Homo sapiens: one gene and its partners. The protein of the gene in region 4 purifies or fractionates together with the protein of the main gene of each other region. This does not show direct contact. Each region holds a gene or a part of one and is shown on either strand. Other genes may lie near its edges.

Region 1 (3,569 bases), on a different chromosome or scaffold from region 4:
TAACTTCTTTTGGCTCAGTTTATTCATCTGTGAGGTTTAGATGAACAAGTGCATGTGGAATGCTTAGAGTAGTGCCTGGCACATAATCAGTGCTATTCAAGAGTTTGCTGCTGATATCGTAGAGTCACTGCTTGATCCTGGGGTCAGAGTAGCTAAGGGGACAGAGGGAAATTTCTGCGCTTTTTCTGTGGAAGGAATAAATACTCAGCAGCTGCCTATAATAAAGTGTTAGTAGAAATCAATTGAATTAGGAGGAATTTCTCATAATAGAAGAGCCTTTATTTTTTAGTCCCCCTTGTCTTTATTTTTTTAGTTAGGGAAAAGGCAAGTGGCTCAGTTCAGATTTAATGAGGGCAGTTATTCTTACTTACTACCATGCTTTCAGTGTTCACCCTAACCTGTTCTAACAATAAATAACTGCTTGTTTATTGGGGCTTAGGGACAGGGAATAATTGCAGGAAAAATCTCTACTATGTTCTTCTGAAGAAAGGAAATATTTTCTCGTAGGAAAATTTGATGAAAAAATTCACATTTAAATAAAGACCTTTTTTTGTTTTTTAAAAATACATACAGTATTTGTTAAGAGCCAAAATACTTTATTAAGTGCCTTTATTTGTTTTTTATTAAAAATTTAATATGTGCTTTTTGAAATGTAAACAATGAAGAATGAAGAGTTAAAAAAATGAGTCTGCTTTGAACCTATTCCCTAATCCTTGTCTCTTTTCAGAGAAAATGTCTATTTTTTGTATGTTCTTTCCAGACCTTTTTCTACATGTATGTATATACAATTTTTTTTTAAAAACCAAATGGCATATATTAGGCACATTATGTGTTATATACAATGTTCTCTGTTCTCTGACTTTTTCCTTCTCATTGTGTGTCACTATATATAGATTTACTTCTTTATTTTTAGAAGACATGTAATATTCTCAAGGATGAATATGGTGTAATTCATTTAACTGTTTCCCTGTCGATGAATATCTAGATTATTTCCAATATTTTGTTATAGTTTATTTCAACAAATGTATTGACTGTCAGGCAGTGCTTGTGAACGGATCACAAAAATTCCTGCTCCCATGCAGTTGCCTTTTGGCAGTAGACCGGCAACAAATAAATATATGTTAGTTGATATTGAGGAATGTAAGGTTGGGGAGGAGATAGGGAGTGTGGGGGAGGGGTGTGCATTTTAAAATGGGGTGGTTAAGAGTGAGATACCAATAGATGACATTTGAGTGGAGATCTGGTGAAGGTAACATAATGAGCTCTGAAGGTATTGGTAAGGGAGGAAGAGAGGAATAGAGTATTCTAGGAAGGAGAGAAGCCCAAAGGGAGGTAGGCATGTGCCTGATGTCGTGGGGGAAGAACAATGTGGCTGGAATGAAATAAGCAAGGGAGAGTGGGAGATGAAGTCACAGAAGGTGACGGGCAGTCAGGGCAGATTGTGTTGAGCTTTTTGAACCCACTGTAAGGATTTTTAAAAGATAAATAGTTATTATTTTTTGATTTTAAAAATAGAGTTGGGGTCTTGCTGTGTTGCCCAAGTTGGTCTTGAACTCCTAGGCTCAAACAGTCCTTCCATCTTGACCTCCCAGAGTGCTTGGATTACAGGCATAAGCCACTGCACCCAGCCTATAAATATGTATTTTAATTATAGATATGGGGTCTTGCCATGTTGCCCAGGTTGGTCTCGAACTCCTGGGCTCAAGCTGTCCTCCTGCCTTGGCCTCCCAAAGTGCTGGATTTACAGGCATGAGCCACCAGGCCGGGCCCACTGTAAGGATTTTTGTCTTATGTCGAATGAGGTGGCAAGCCTTTGGAAGTTTCTGAGCAGAAGCATGGCATAATCTTATTTACATTTTGAATGGTCTCTCTGTATTCTTGATAATAGACTTTGGCCAGAAGCAAGAAGGCTATTTAGGAGGGCATTCAGGCATGGTTTGGACCAGGATAGTGGTTTGGTGGTTTGGACCAGGATAGTAGCAGTAGAGGTGGTAGGACATGGCTAGATTCTGGGTGTGTATTAAAGATGAAGTGAGAGAGAGTAGTCAAGGATCACTCTGAAATTTTGGGACTGAACAATTGGAAAGTTGAAGTTGCCGTGAAATGAAATGATGAAAACTGCAGTAGGCAAGGTTAGGAATTTGGCTTTGGGCACGTTCTGTTTGAGAATTTATTAGACATCCAACCAGAGATATTGAGTATGCAGCTGGAAATGTAAATATGAAGTTCAATGGAGAGGTCAGGTTTGGAGAAACAAATGTTGGAGTCTTCAGTTTACTAAAGCAATTTAAAACCCTCAGTTTACCTGGGAGTAAATTAGAGAAGAGAGTCAGGAACAGCCTCTGGGCACTTCAAACTTGGTTAAGGGGCTGAGGATGTGAGAAGGATGCATCGAAGAGACCAAGAAAGGAGCCAGTGAGATAGAAAGGAAACGGAGAAAACCAAGAGAAGGCAGTCAACAGTGTCACTCAAGGAGAACTGAGAATTGACCATTGAATTTAACCATGTGGTAGTGTGGGTGACCTTGCCAAGTGCAATTTTGAGAGAAAAGTAAGGTATGTTTGTAGGAGATTTGAGAAAGGATGGAAGGAAAGGAATTAGAGACTGTTAGTATAAGCATCTCTTTTGAGGAGTTTGTTGTAAAAGAGAGAAAATGGGGCCTTAGCTGGGGGGTGATATGAAGTCAAGAAATTTTTTTTTTTTTTGTTTCTTTCTTAGATGGAGAAATAAAACATTTAAACTTATGGGTAATAGTCCAGCAGACGGACAGTTTGATACATGACAAACTGGAGTAAGTTTAGAGACAAGTTTGAGGAGGACATTTTAATTTATAAGCACATGTGCAAGGATTTTTATAGGCTAGATTCTTAAAAGGATTTCCTGAGTCAAAGGGTATGTGCATTTTAAAAACCTGTACCAATTTATATTCCACTTTCAGTGTATACCCTTTCTAACACTGAACATTCTTAATCTTTAAAATTATTGCCAATCTGATAGGTGATGATATCTTCATTATTTTAATTTGTTTTACTGCTTTCTAGGAACTGTTTATTTAGTCTATCTAATTCTTTGTGATATTTTGTCAGATACTTTCTCCTGGCTGTCTCTTGCCTTTTAACTTTGCTTATGGTATCCTTTTACCATGTACGACTTTTCAAAAATGTTTTTATGCAGTTAAGTTTGTCAGCCATTTCCTATAGCATTTGGGTTTCATTTAGATGATGTAAATATTTGATATAATCTAATATGTTTATACGTTTACATTTTTAATTCATTTGGAGTTTATTTTTGTGTATGTTATGAAAAAGGTTTTCCATCTTTCTCTGTATTCTTAAACAGCTAAATACCATAGGAGTTAACTGTTTCTTGAAGGTTTGAAAGAAATTACCTGTAAAATCTAGGACTAGAACCTCTTTGTAGGGTAGGTCTTTGACTACTGTGTAATTCTTTTTCTGTGGTTAATGATCTGTATGGTTTATGTACTTCTTTTTAGTTTTGGTAGTTGATATCTTCCCAAGAACATCATTGTTTTCATTTACATTTTCAAATTTATTGGTTCAAAATTCTAC
Region 2 (3,569 bases), on a different chromosome or scaffold from region 4:
TGACATGATGAAACAACTTAAGGAACAGTAGGTGTGAGGACAGACAAGCTATTGGGGAGGTGGAGCCGGCGCATTGCGGTGAGGGCGCCTCAGTACCTTGCCGTGCACACGCATCCAGCGACAGTACAACGCGTGCTTACACAGGCGGGACGCGCGGCCCAGCTCATCCTTCCCAGTCGTGGCGTTGATGACCTCAATAGCGGAGTCGCCTACCGTCCAGTTGACACTGAAGTTGGGGGCCTTCCCTGGCTGCCGTGCTTCTGCATTGCTGATGCCTGAAACGGAAGACACAGGAAGGTGGTGTGAAGCCCGCTTTCACCCCCAGGGAGGGAGCAGCCACGGGCGGCACACTGTGCTCAGACATGGCCACAGAAGTGCGTGGTGGGGGAATTCTGCCTGCCGAGGAATATACGCAGACTTGAGCGTGCATCTGCCGTGGCAGTGGCCTCACACTCTTCCACGGCCACCAGAATAGGAGCAGTGCTGAGAAAGCAGAACTGACCCACGGGTATGCACTTGTCTGACAGGGCAGGTGGGCAGAAGATTGACAGAAACCTGAAATCATGAGACTTCCTGACAAGTGTGTCTTTTCTCACTCTGGCACTGACGGAGCCAGGAACCTTGGCAGCCTGAGAGTGGATGGGTGGGAGCCACTTCTGAGACTAATGCAGGGTCCCATGAGGTCGTGCAGGTGGGGGTTGCTCCTGTATCACACCACCTCTGGCGCTCATGCCTGCATGTGCTCCCCTGCCACTGAGAGGCCAGGCATGTTCAGGTCACGTGGCTTTGCATGTGTGACATCCATGATGCAATAGGAAACCCTAATTCTTAACAAGAGTCTTGAAAAAGTTCATGGAAAATGCTTATTATGAAAAAACCTCATGGATTTCAAAATTTTTTGGCACCAAAATAAACTTGTACTAACTTGCTGAAACATGTCTGAATAGGATCTAGTTTGAGGCACTAAGAAGATTAAGACATCTGTTTGAAAAGCGCTCCTATCAGAGCTACATGACTTCTGCTAAAATTGAAGCAAGAACAAACATCAAACAGGAGATAAAAATAGCTTTTACAAAGACAATCCTGAAGAAAATGCATAATCCAAAAAAAAAAAAAAAAAAGGCTACCAAGAGGCAGAAGGGGCCCAGTCAAAGCACAGGCTGACTGGCCAAAGCACAGGCCATGGCAGCATTTTTGGGATGCTCAAGGCGTTTTGCTTGTTGGGTTCACATGGAGGGCCAAAGGATGGTAATATCTGCTTATGATGACAGTGTTTCAAGAAAGTGAGCCAAAGCTTTAGCAGAAACCCCCTGGGGAAGCTTCGCCAGAGACCTTCACCATGACAAAGCGCCTATTTATTCCTCTCATCAAACAAGGGCAAGTGTGTGAGGGTTTCGAGAGGAAATCATGAGCCATCCACCTTATGGTGGTTGCAAATCCACCTCATTTGGCTCCTTCTGACTTCTTTTTGTTTCCTAATCTCAAAAATTCCTTAAGGGGCATGCTTAAGGAATTTTTCTTCAGTTACTAATGTAAGAAAGACTGCACTGACATGGTTAAACTCCCAAGACATTCAGTTCTTTTTTTCGAGACGGAGTCTCACTCTTGTTGCCAGGCTGGAGTGTGTGGTGCGATCTTGGCTTGCTGCAACCTCCACCTCCTGGGTTCAAGCGATTCTCCTGCCTCTGCCTCCCAAGTACCTGGGACTACAGGCGCGTGCCACCATGCCCAGCTGGTTTTTGTATTTTTAGTAGAGATGGGGTTTCACCATGTTGGCCAGGATGGTCTCAATCTCCTGACTTCATGATCTTCCCGCCTCGGCCTCCCAAAGTGTTGGGATTACAGGCATGAGCCACCACACCTAGCCACCATTCAGTTCTTTAGGGACAATCTAAATGGCTAGGATCAGCACTTACAAAAATGTCTTGAATTTGATGGAGCTTATGTTGAGAAATAATGTTTATATCTTTAAACATTTTTTTATCTTTTAACTTTATGAACTTTTTGAAGTACCCTTGTACTTATTTTCTTGCTGTGTTTAAACGATCTCATCTTAACTAATCACAGGCTAATTCTGCAGGGTTGAAAGTTTTTAAAAAGACACTTGCATAACTCGGAATTGAATACATGTATCTGCATTTATATATTGAGCTTGATAATTCATATCACATGGATGTTATAGGCCACCAAAATCAAAACTAATTTGGGATATGAATCTTTAGAACATGCTTAGAACATGGGCAGACTCATATTCTGAACCCAGACACTGAACTGTCAAGCCCACTGGCCAGAAGCAGCACACTGCACTCTCAGATGACTCAGTACAACTCACTTCGTGCCCTGTGGAGGCCACCCCCACCCCGTCACCATGCTCACTTGCTTTCAATGACCATTTATCCCTCCCTTGGAGAGATATCAAAACCCAGATGACAGTTCACTGTTCAGAGTAAGGAACCCAGGCAGAGTGTAGCAGATCCCCTGAATTGAGAGTCAAGGGAAACCAAGTCAGCCAGATTTCATAAGACAGAGTACCGGAAGGAAGAGACATGCAGACAGAGTGAGCCCTGGAGATACGCAGAGGGTGTCCTTGAATATCCTGCGGAGCACTGATCAGAGTAGGCATGTTACTCAATCAAGGCTGGGAAACAGCCTCCTGAGAGAATGGAAAAGTGCCTGACATTCACATATAGAAGATACAGACATAAAGATATAAAAAGGCCTAAGCCAAATTTCTAGAGAGGAAAACTACAATGTATTAGATAAAAAATACACTTGATGGGACTAACCACAGAATAGAAACCGCAGAAGAAAAGATTAGTGAACTTAAAGACACAGTAACAGAAACTACCAAAAATGAAACACAAAGAGAGAAAAAAAGAACAGAAAATCAGTGATATGGGGCAGGTTTAGGTAGGGTGAAATATGTGTAATTAGATTTCATGACGGTGAGGAGAGAGAAGGGGGAACGGAAAATATATCTGAAGAAAGATGAATAAAAAATTTCCAAATTTCATGAAACCAACAAACCCATGGATTAAAGAATTTCAATGAATCCCAAGCACAAGAAACATGAATAAAACTATATACCAAAGCACAACAGAACAAATTGTTCAACACTAGTATTAAGAGAAAATCTTAAGCAAACCCAGAGCAAAAAACACACAGAGGAATAAAGATAACAACACATTTCTTACTGGAAACAACGCAAACAACAAGTCAGGGAAGCAATGTCTTTAAAGTGCTTAAAGGAGAAAAAGGACCCTGCCATTCCAGCAGAAATATATTTGTACAGCAAAATATACTTCAAAATGAAAGCAAAATACTTTCCCAGACATACCAAAGCTGAAATAATTCATCATCAGAAGACTTGTGCTACAAGGAATGTAAAAGGAAGTCCTCCAGCCAGAAGAAAAAATGATACCAAAATGGAAATCCAGATCTATACAAAGAATGAAGAGCCCTGGAAATGATAGCTACATGGATAAATATACAAGAGGTTTTTTTCTTATTATTTAAATTCCTTTAAAAGATAATTATTAAGATGAAAATAATAAGATGTGGATTTTTTT
Region 3 (3,569 bases), on a different chromosome or scaffold from region 4:
CCCAGCCTCTACCCTCTCCAGTCTCCACCCTCTTCCACCTGCTGCCCACCCTCTCTCCTCCTTGGGCAACAGGACAGACTCACCTTCTCCAGTTGACCTGCCACCTTTTTCTTCTTCTCATCCTGAAAACAGAAGGCACAGAGAGTGAGGGTCACACAGATGAAGAGAGCTGGGAAACAGAACTGCACTGACCTGGGAGGGCCCATCTTTGGGAACCAAAAGTGAGTGACTACCCTGCTGGCAGTGGGGACAGAGGCTAGAGTGACCCTTTACATACTTTCTTAATTTCTGGAGTAGTAGAGTCTTTTGGAGGCTGCTTGGGCTGGCTTGGTTTCTGGGCATGTTTGCTCCAGGCTCTGGGTTTGGCCGGGTCCCCGAATGACTTGCAGAACTCCACCTGTGTGGGAAAGAGAGTGATTTTCACACCTGCCATGGCACCCAGGCGTTGGGTGCTGCCCTTCGGCACCTGGGAGCTCGGGCATTTCAGACAACTGTCACTGCCTAGCTGAGTTTGCTGAAGTAGATTACACGTCACCCCTTAGCCTGGGCTTTCTTTCCCTTCAAGTCTAGAATACAATACTCTAACAGTCTATCATTATGAGTCTGTAATACTGTAATGGTAATAGCTGCCACTTACTGAGGAACTCCACATGCCAGGTACTGTCTGAAGTGCTCTGCAAGTACTGATACACCGAGCCTCTCATGTCAGTGACAGCTATGACTTTCTACAATTCAGATCAAGAAATTGGAGCATCAAGAAGTCAATTTCCCTGGCTTACCCAGGTAATAAGTGACAGAGTGAAGACTGGAACTCAGGGGGTCTCTGGGCTCTGGAACCTGAGTTCTTAACCATCCACTCTACCGGGCGGCTGTGAGGATGGCATGAGATGACCTGGGCCAAGCACTCAACCAGGCTCTGGGCAGGGTAATGTGGGGCAGTGGCTACCACAGTTACCCCACACTGCCCTGGGTTAATTATCATAAAGTAAGCTCATCTGGCTCCAGAGAACAATTCTAGGGTGATAGGGGCACTGGGGTGACCACTGGAGGGACGGAAGAGTACTGGAGACCCAGCCTGAGCTGACGCACTATTCAGGCCCTAAAACCTCCAATACACTCCTCTGAGAGGACTTTGAGAGCGCTGGTTACTGGGGCATCCACCACCGCAAGCCACTCCCAGCCACAGTTAAGGCTGACGCTGGTCAACCAACCACTGCCCCTGGGGGAAGGAGCTGCCATCTGGTTGCAATCCTTTTTAAGACACAGGGTCTCACTCCGTTGCCCAGGCTGGACTGCAGTGGCATGATCATAGCTCACTGCAGCCTCAAACTCTTGGGCTCAAGTGATCCTCTTGTCTCAGCCTTCTGAATACCTAGGACTCCAGGCACATGTCACCATGCCCGGCTAATTTTTTTTTTTATTTTTGTAAAGACGCAGTCTTGCTATGTTGCACAGGCTGGTCTTGAACTCCTGGCTTCAAGTGATCCTCCCACCTCAGCCTCCCAAAGTGCTTGTATTATAGGCAGGAGCCACCACACCTGGCCAGTTACAATCCCTTTTGTGCACACTTCCAAAATAGGCTTGTTATCTCTATAATAATGACATGCTCACGGTACAAAATTCAAATAATATACAAAAGTACAATGGAAGTTAAAAAAGATGTACTCCAATTCCTATCACTCATGGAGAGGAATGATTAGTATTTTGGTACAAATCCTATCCTATGGCCTTCTATGCATTTATCATATATGTATGGATAGAGGAATACGATTGTGTCTATATAGGATCACGAGACATATATATATTTATCCATCATCTGTTTTTTCCTTCTCAACAAAGCATTAGAGATGTTTTTACGAAGTCACTAAATACACGAGTGACCTGAGTGGAGCCCACTCCTCCAGGAAGCTTTCCTGACTCCTCCCTGGTCCGGCTATAGATCTTTGTTCTCCCACAGTCCCTGGGGCTCACCCTATCATAGCACTGATGTCACTGAGCCAAAGCAGCCTGCTGACCTGTCAGCCCCCTGCCTGCCCAGAGACAGCAGGCTCCATGAGGACAGGGGCTGAGGCATCACCTTTTTCTCTAAACTCCCAGCATCATTGAGTGCTTGCTAAATGCATGAGTGAATGGATGAGGTAGAGCTGTGGTTCTCAAGGTGTGGGCCTCAGACCAGCAGCATGGTCGTCACCTGAGGGCTTGTTGGATGTGTGAATTCTTGGGTCCTGACTCCATGCACTGAATCAGATGCTCTGGGGACGGGCCCAGGAAGCTGTTATAATAAGCTCTCAGGTGATTTGTATGCACATGAAAGTGTGTGAATCGGTGAGGAAGAAAACCAAAGACATCACAAAGTGAAGAGGGACGGTCTTTGAACTCAAGTGCTGAGTGAAAGATCAAACAACGTCACACTTGACAGGAAGGTAAGGGTGAGACTCCTGCCCACTCACTGTGATCCGGGATGTGTCGATGAAGCTCTTGTTGAAATGCTTCTGTGCCTTCTGGGCCTCTTCCTCGGACTTGAAGCCAATAAAACCAAACTTGCGGAACTTGCCATCTTTGGTGAACTTCAGGCTGCAGTCTGTCAGCGTGCCGAAGGCGGCAAACAGCTGCCTGAAACGCTCCTCCTTCATCTAGGACAGAGGGAAAGGAATGAGAGACGAACTGGAAAGTCCCCAGAGCAAGGGGACAAAATGGGCTGGAAACCTGAGGCCACGAGATTCTCCAAGGGTGGCCTTAGATGAAGAGGGGCAGAGTGTACTTTTCTAGTTACAACAGGTTCCAGCTCTGACTCTAGCACGAGTTGTGTGGCCTTGAGAAAGTCCCTTAACCACTCACTGATGTGGAAATCATGACTCATAATGGCTGCAAATGACATCTTCCTACCCTATGGGGCTCCTATGAGGATAAGACCAATTACAGAAGCAGTATTACGTCTGCTACATAGTAGATACCTAATAAATACTTGTAGGAATAAATGAAAGAATGAACAGGCATGGTAAGCTATATATATCTTTGTTAATAAAGCCCCCCCAAAAGATGCCCACATCCTAATCCCTGGAAACTGTGGATATGTTACCTTACAAGGCAAAAGGGACTTGTCAGGTGTGACTGATATGGAGATGGGGAGATGATCTGGATTATGCAGCCAGGTCCAATGTCACCTCAAGGGTCCTTATGAGAGGGAGGCGGGAAGATCAGAGAAGATGGAAACAGAAAGATTGGAAGATGCTATGCTATTGGCTCCAAATATGGAGTATATAGCTATGAACCAAGGAAGGCAGGTGCTTCTAGAAGCTGAAAAAAGGCAAAGGGACAGATATTCCCACAGAGCTTCCAGAAGGACTGCAGCCCTGCCAAAGCCTTGATTTTAGGATTTCTGACCTGCAAAACTGTAAGATAAGGATTGTCTGGATTGTTTAAGCCACTAAGTTTGTGCTAATTTGCTATAGCTGCACTAAAAAACTAACACACTATTATTATAATTTGGTCAAGAAGCCCCACACTATGGAAAACAGGCTCCTGGCTTCTCACCATCTTCACTGCAGCCAGGCTACCCTCACAACTCA
Region 4 (3,513 bases):
TCTCAAGCAAGGTTATATTATGATAAGAGAACTATGGAGCCAGCTGCCAACCTTGAAATACAAATTAAACATTTAAGTTGGCATAATGAACATTTCCAGGAAGGGCAGTGGCTAATAATCTGTAGGACAAGGCTACCAGGTTTACTATGGCTCCTCTTCAAATGACAATGACAAAGATTTGAAGTAATAAGGCCAGAAAAGCCTTTTCATTTCCAAAATCATCTTTCCTGGAAGACTTGGAAGTTCAAACTTCACTACGTGAGATTTCACTGCTCTCATATCAAGCCGACTGACCTCCATAGCTCAAGAGACTACCTGTTAGCTGATCCCCTAAAGCATGGAGGATCGATTCAGGAAGGGGGATCTATTCAGGAAGAGATCTATGCATCAGGGTTAGCTGTATGAGAAGTATGAGAAAATCTGCTTATATTATTTTTGGCTACAGACAGGTGTTTCCAATTTCTCATGTTTAGTCTTAAATGCATCCAAGTTTGTGTGTGTGTGTGTTGGGGGTGGAGGGAAGAACCAGATACACTTATTTTCAAACAAAAGCTGCCACATGTTTATTAAGACATTACTGGCTCTTAAGCACAGCTGGATCTATAAATCATTTTCCATATATTATCACATATTCAGGAAAGTTTCTGAGATGATATATCAAGACAGGCTTCTCTTGTGACTCAACTGGACCTGAGGAAAGAACAAAAGAAATTACATACCTGATTTATAGCTGCTGGTCATCAACAGACACGTACTGGCAATGTAATCTTTTGAGACAGGAGAGCTAAACTGCTTTCCCCTCCTTGCTAAAGCTTTGCCCAAAATGCCTGTACCTTTAAAAATCCTTTGTCCTAATTAAATCTATCTGCATTCTCAAAGTCCCTCAACATTCATTAATCTCTGAGGAGACCAAACAGTCAACTGTGATGAAGAGGCCAATTGCAAAGCTCAATCTCAGAACCACCACATCTCAGGCCTGAAAGGACACCATGAGAAGGGAAGGATGTTCTATGGTTTTAAATATTGGGCAGCAGAACTAATGGCCAGCCCCATTATCTAGCTCTGTGAAACAGAGCAAGCTGCTAATCTCTCAAGAAACATATATATAATAAGAGGATTCAAGCTCATACAAGCTATAGCTATATCTGAAGACCCATCTCTCTGTGTTATTAAGTCTTTTGTGGATTAAACATGTTCAGTAATTACAATTTTGATGAGAATTATTGAATGCAACATTAGAGATCAGACCTCAGAAGAACCGAGCCAGATTGCTGTGATTTGGGATAAGAAAGGAGGGTCCAACTTCAGCTAGACAGTTCCTGATCTACTTCCAACCCACCCCTCTAAATAAAGATGCAGTAACTTAGGGGTAGAGAAACAAAGCTCAGCTAATGTGCTGCTTCCACCAACTGACAGCAATGGGTGTATCTTAAAACCTGCAGAATTTGTAAGAAAAGGGTTTTCTTACTTCAAATAGTCTCTTTAGAAGTCTGAGTAATGGTGCAACCTGGAAAAGTAAAAAATAAGTCATCTGAACAACTTTGTAATTACCCACAGTGTTTTCAATTAGATCACAGAAGGGCACTTAGGAAGATTTTAGTGGGAAAAATATGTAATCACAATCATTCACACCAGGCAGTTAGGTTCAGACTCCTCAATCTGACATTCTGGAGGATCTGAACGCCTCAGATTTTAGGTAACATGAGTAGGCTTACTCCAAAGTTTCACATGGGGGGTCTATGAAATACCTGATCAGACATAAACAATAAAAATGTCATCAGTCAATTCCAGTCACTGGTATAGCTAGAAACAGTGTCATTCTAAAGAGCAATGCTCTGGTGGAAAATCTAATGGCCTTTGGGTCTTAGAGAAAAAAAAATTTCACTTATAAAAATACCAAAGGATTTGGAAGAAAATTCTAAGTGCAATAAGAATCTGCATCCTTTTATAAAATACAAACTGAAACAGAACCACTCCAAATCTGATCTGAAATGAGACTGATGAAATTATCCTGGTATAACCTGTTTTCCTTTCAAAGTAAGTAGAACTGTAAACCACATTATTGTCTGGTATATTCTCCTTTCACAACTATTTCCTCAAAACCAATTTACATTCCTCCTTTTCTTCACTCCAGATTTTAGTCCGTTTTGAAAGCAGGAATTCCCTAAAGCATACAAACATAAACACAGGGTTCTATGTAGCATTCACTACCAACACAAGGAGCAAGGCAAGAGGGCTGTGATTTACATCACAAGTTTTCTACTGAAAGCTCTTTAGTTCTCCCTAAAGATCCACCTTGTCACCTATATCTTCTAGCAATGATGCAATTAGGTTTTGTTTGTTCCTGTTTTATAGCCAAGTATGTTGGGTACAGAAAAGAACCTGGACAGCGCATATAAGTTTTGGTTATCTTTGTGGTTAACACCCTTATTTACAGCTTACAGCTACAGGGAAAGAAACACCTTTTAAAAAGAAATCAATTAAATCTAGTGGAGTAAACTGAATTATTAAATCAGCAAAAGCTAATCTAAACATAAGGCACGAAGAAAGTGGAAATATTATTAAAGTGGCTTTTTCTCAATTTGACATTCTCAAAATAGTGCTTTCCAAAAAATATATATATTCCCCAGGTGAAGTTTCCTGCTAGTGACATTTTATGGTAGAAAATTACCCAAAGTACTGCCCAAGGTTATTTATAGATTCAATGCCATCCCCATCAAGCTACCAATGACTTTCTTCACAGAATTGGAAAAAACTACTTTAAAGTTCATATGGAACCAAAAAAGAGCCCGCATAGCCAAGTCAATCCTAAGCCAAAAGAACAAAGCTGGAGGCATCATGCTACCTGACTTCAAACTATACTACAAGGCTACAGTAACCAAAACAGCAGGGTACTGGTACCAAAACAGAGATATAGACCAATGGAACAGAACAGAGGCCTCAGAAATAATGCTGCATATCTACAACCATCTGATCTTTGACAAACCTGACAAAAACAAAAAATGGGGAAAGGATTGCCTATTTAATAAATGGTGCTGGGAAAACTGGCTAGCCATATGTAGAAAGCTGAAACTGGGTCCCTTCCTTACACCTTATACAAAAATTAATTCAAGATGGATTAAAGACTTACATGTTAGACCTAAAACCATAAAAACCCTAGAAGAAAACCTAGGCAATACCATTCAGGACATAGGCATGGGCAAGGACTTCATGTCTAAAACACCAAAAGCAATGGCAACAAAAGCCAAAATTGACAAATGGGATCTAATTAAACTAAAGAGTTTCTGCACAGCAAAAGAAACTACCATCAGAGTAAACAGGCAACCTACAAAATGGGAGAAAATTGTCGCAACCTACTCATCTGACAAAGGGCTAATATCCACAATCTACAATGAACTCAAACAAATTTACAAGAAAAAAACAACCCCATCAAAAAGTGGGCGAAGGATATGAACAGACACTTCTCAAAAGAAGACATTTATGCAGCCAAAAAACACATGAAAAAATGCTCAT

What was found.
Region 1: the proteins of UTP18 (region 4) and C1D purify together in Homo sapiens (co-immunoprecipitation; one large-scale study listed by IntAct). This does not show direct contact.
Region 2: the proteins of UTP18 (region 4) and ADARB1 purify together in Homo sapiens (co-immunoprecipitation; one large-scale study listed by IntAct). This does not show direct contact.
Region 3: the proteins of UTP18 (region 4) and RBM19 fractionate together in Homo sapiens (co-fractionation; one large-scale study listed by BioGRID). This does not show direct contact.

What each region holds. Positions count from the first base shown.
Region 1 is NC_000002.12:68,049,437-68,053,005, reverse strand, and holds part of C1D (nuclear nucleic acid-binding protein C1D), read left to right. Parts: intron 1-3,569. UniProt on the Homo sapiens protein: Plays a role in the recruitment of the RNA exosome complex to pre-rRNA to mediate the 3'-5' end processing of the 5.8S rRNA; this function may include MPHOSPH6.
Region 2 is NC_000021.9:45,217,542-45,221,110, reverse strand, and holds part of ADARB1 (double-stranded RNA-specific editase 1), read right to left. Parts: intron 276-3,569; coding exon 97-275; intron 1-96. UniProt on the Homo sapiens protein: Catalyzes the hydrolytic deamination of adenosine to inosine in double-stranded RNA (dsRNA) referred to as A-to-I RNA editing.
Region 3 is NC_000012.12:113,959,782-113,963,350, forward strand, and holds part of RBM19 (probable RNA-binding protein 19), read right to left. Parts: intron 2,634-3,569; coding exon 2,451-2,633; intron 398-2,450; coding exon 278-397; intron 123-277; coding exon 84-122; intron 1-83. UniProt on the Homo sapiens protein: Plays a role in embryo pre-implantation development.
Region 4 is NC_000017.11:51,294,959-51,298,471, reverse strand, and holds the end of UTP18 (U3 small nucleolar RNA-associated protein 18 homolog), read right to left. Parts: intron 1,508-3,513; coding exon 1,483-1,507; 3' UTR 1,469-1,482; intron 691-1,468; 3' UTR 539-690; downstream 1-538. UniProt on the Homo sapiens protein: Part of the small subunit (SSU) processome, first precursor of the small eukaryotic ribosomal subunit.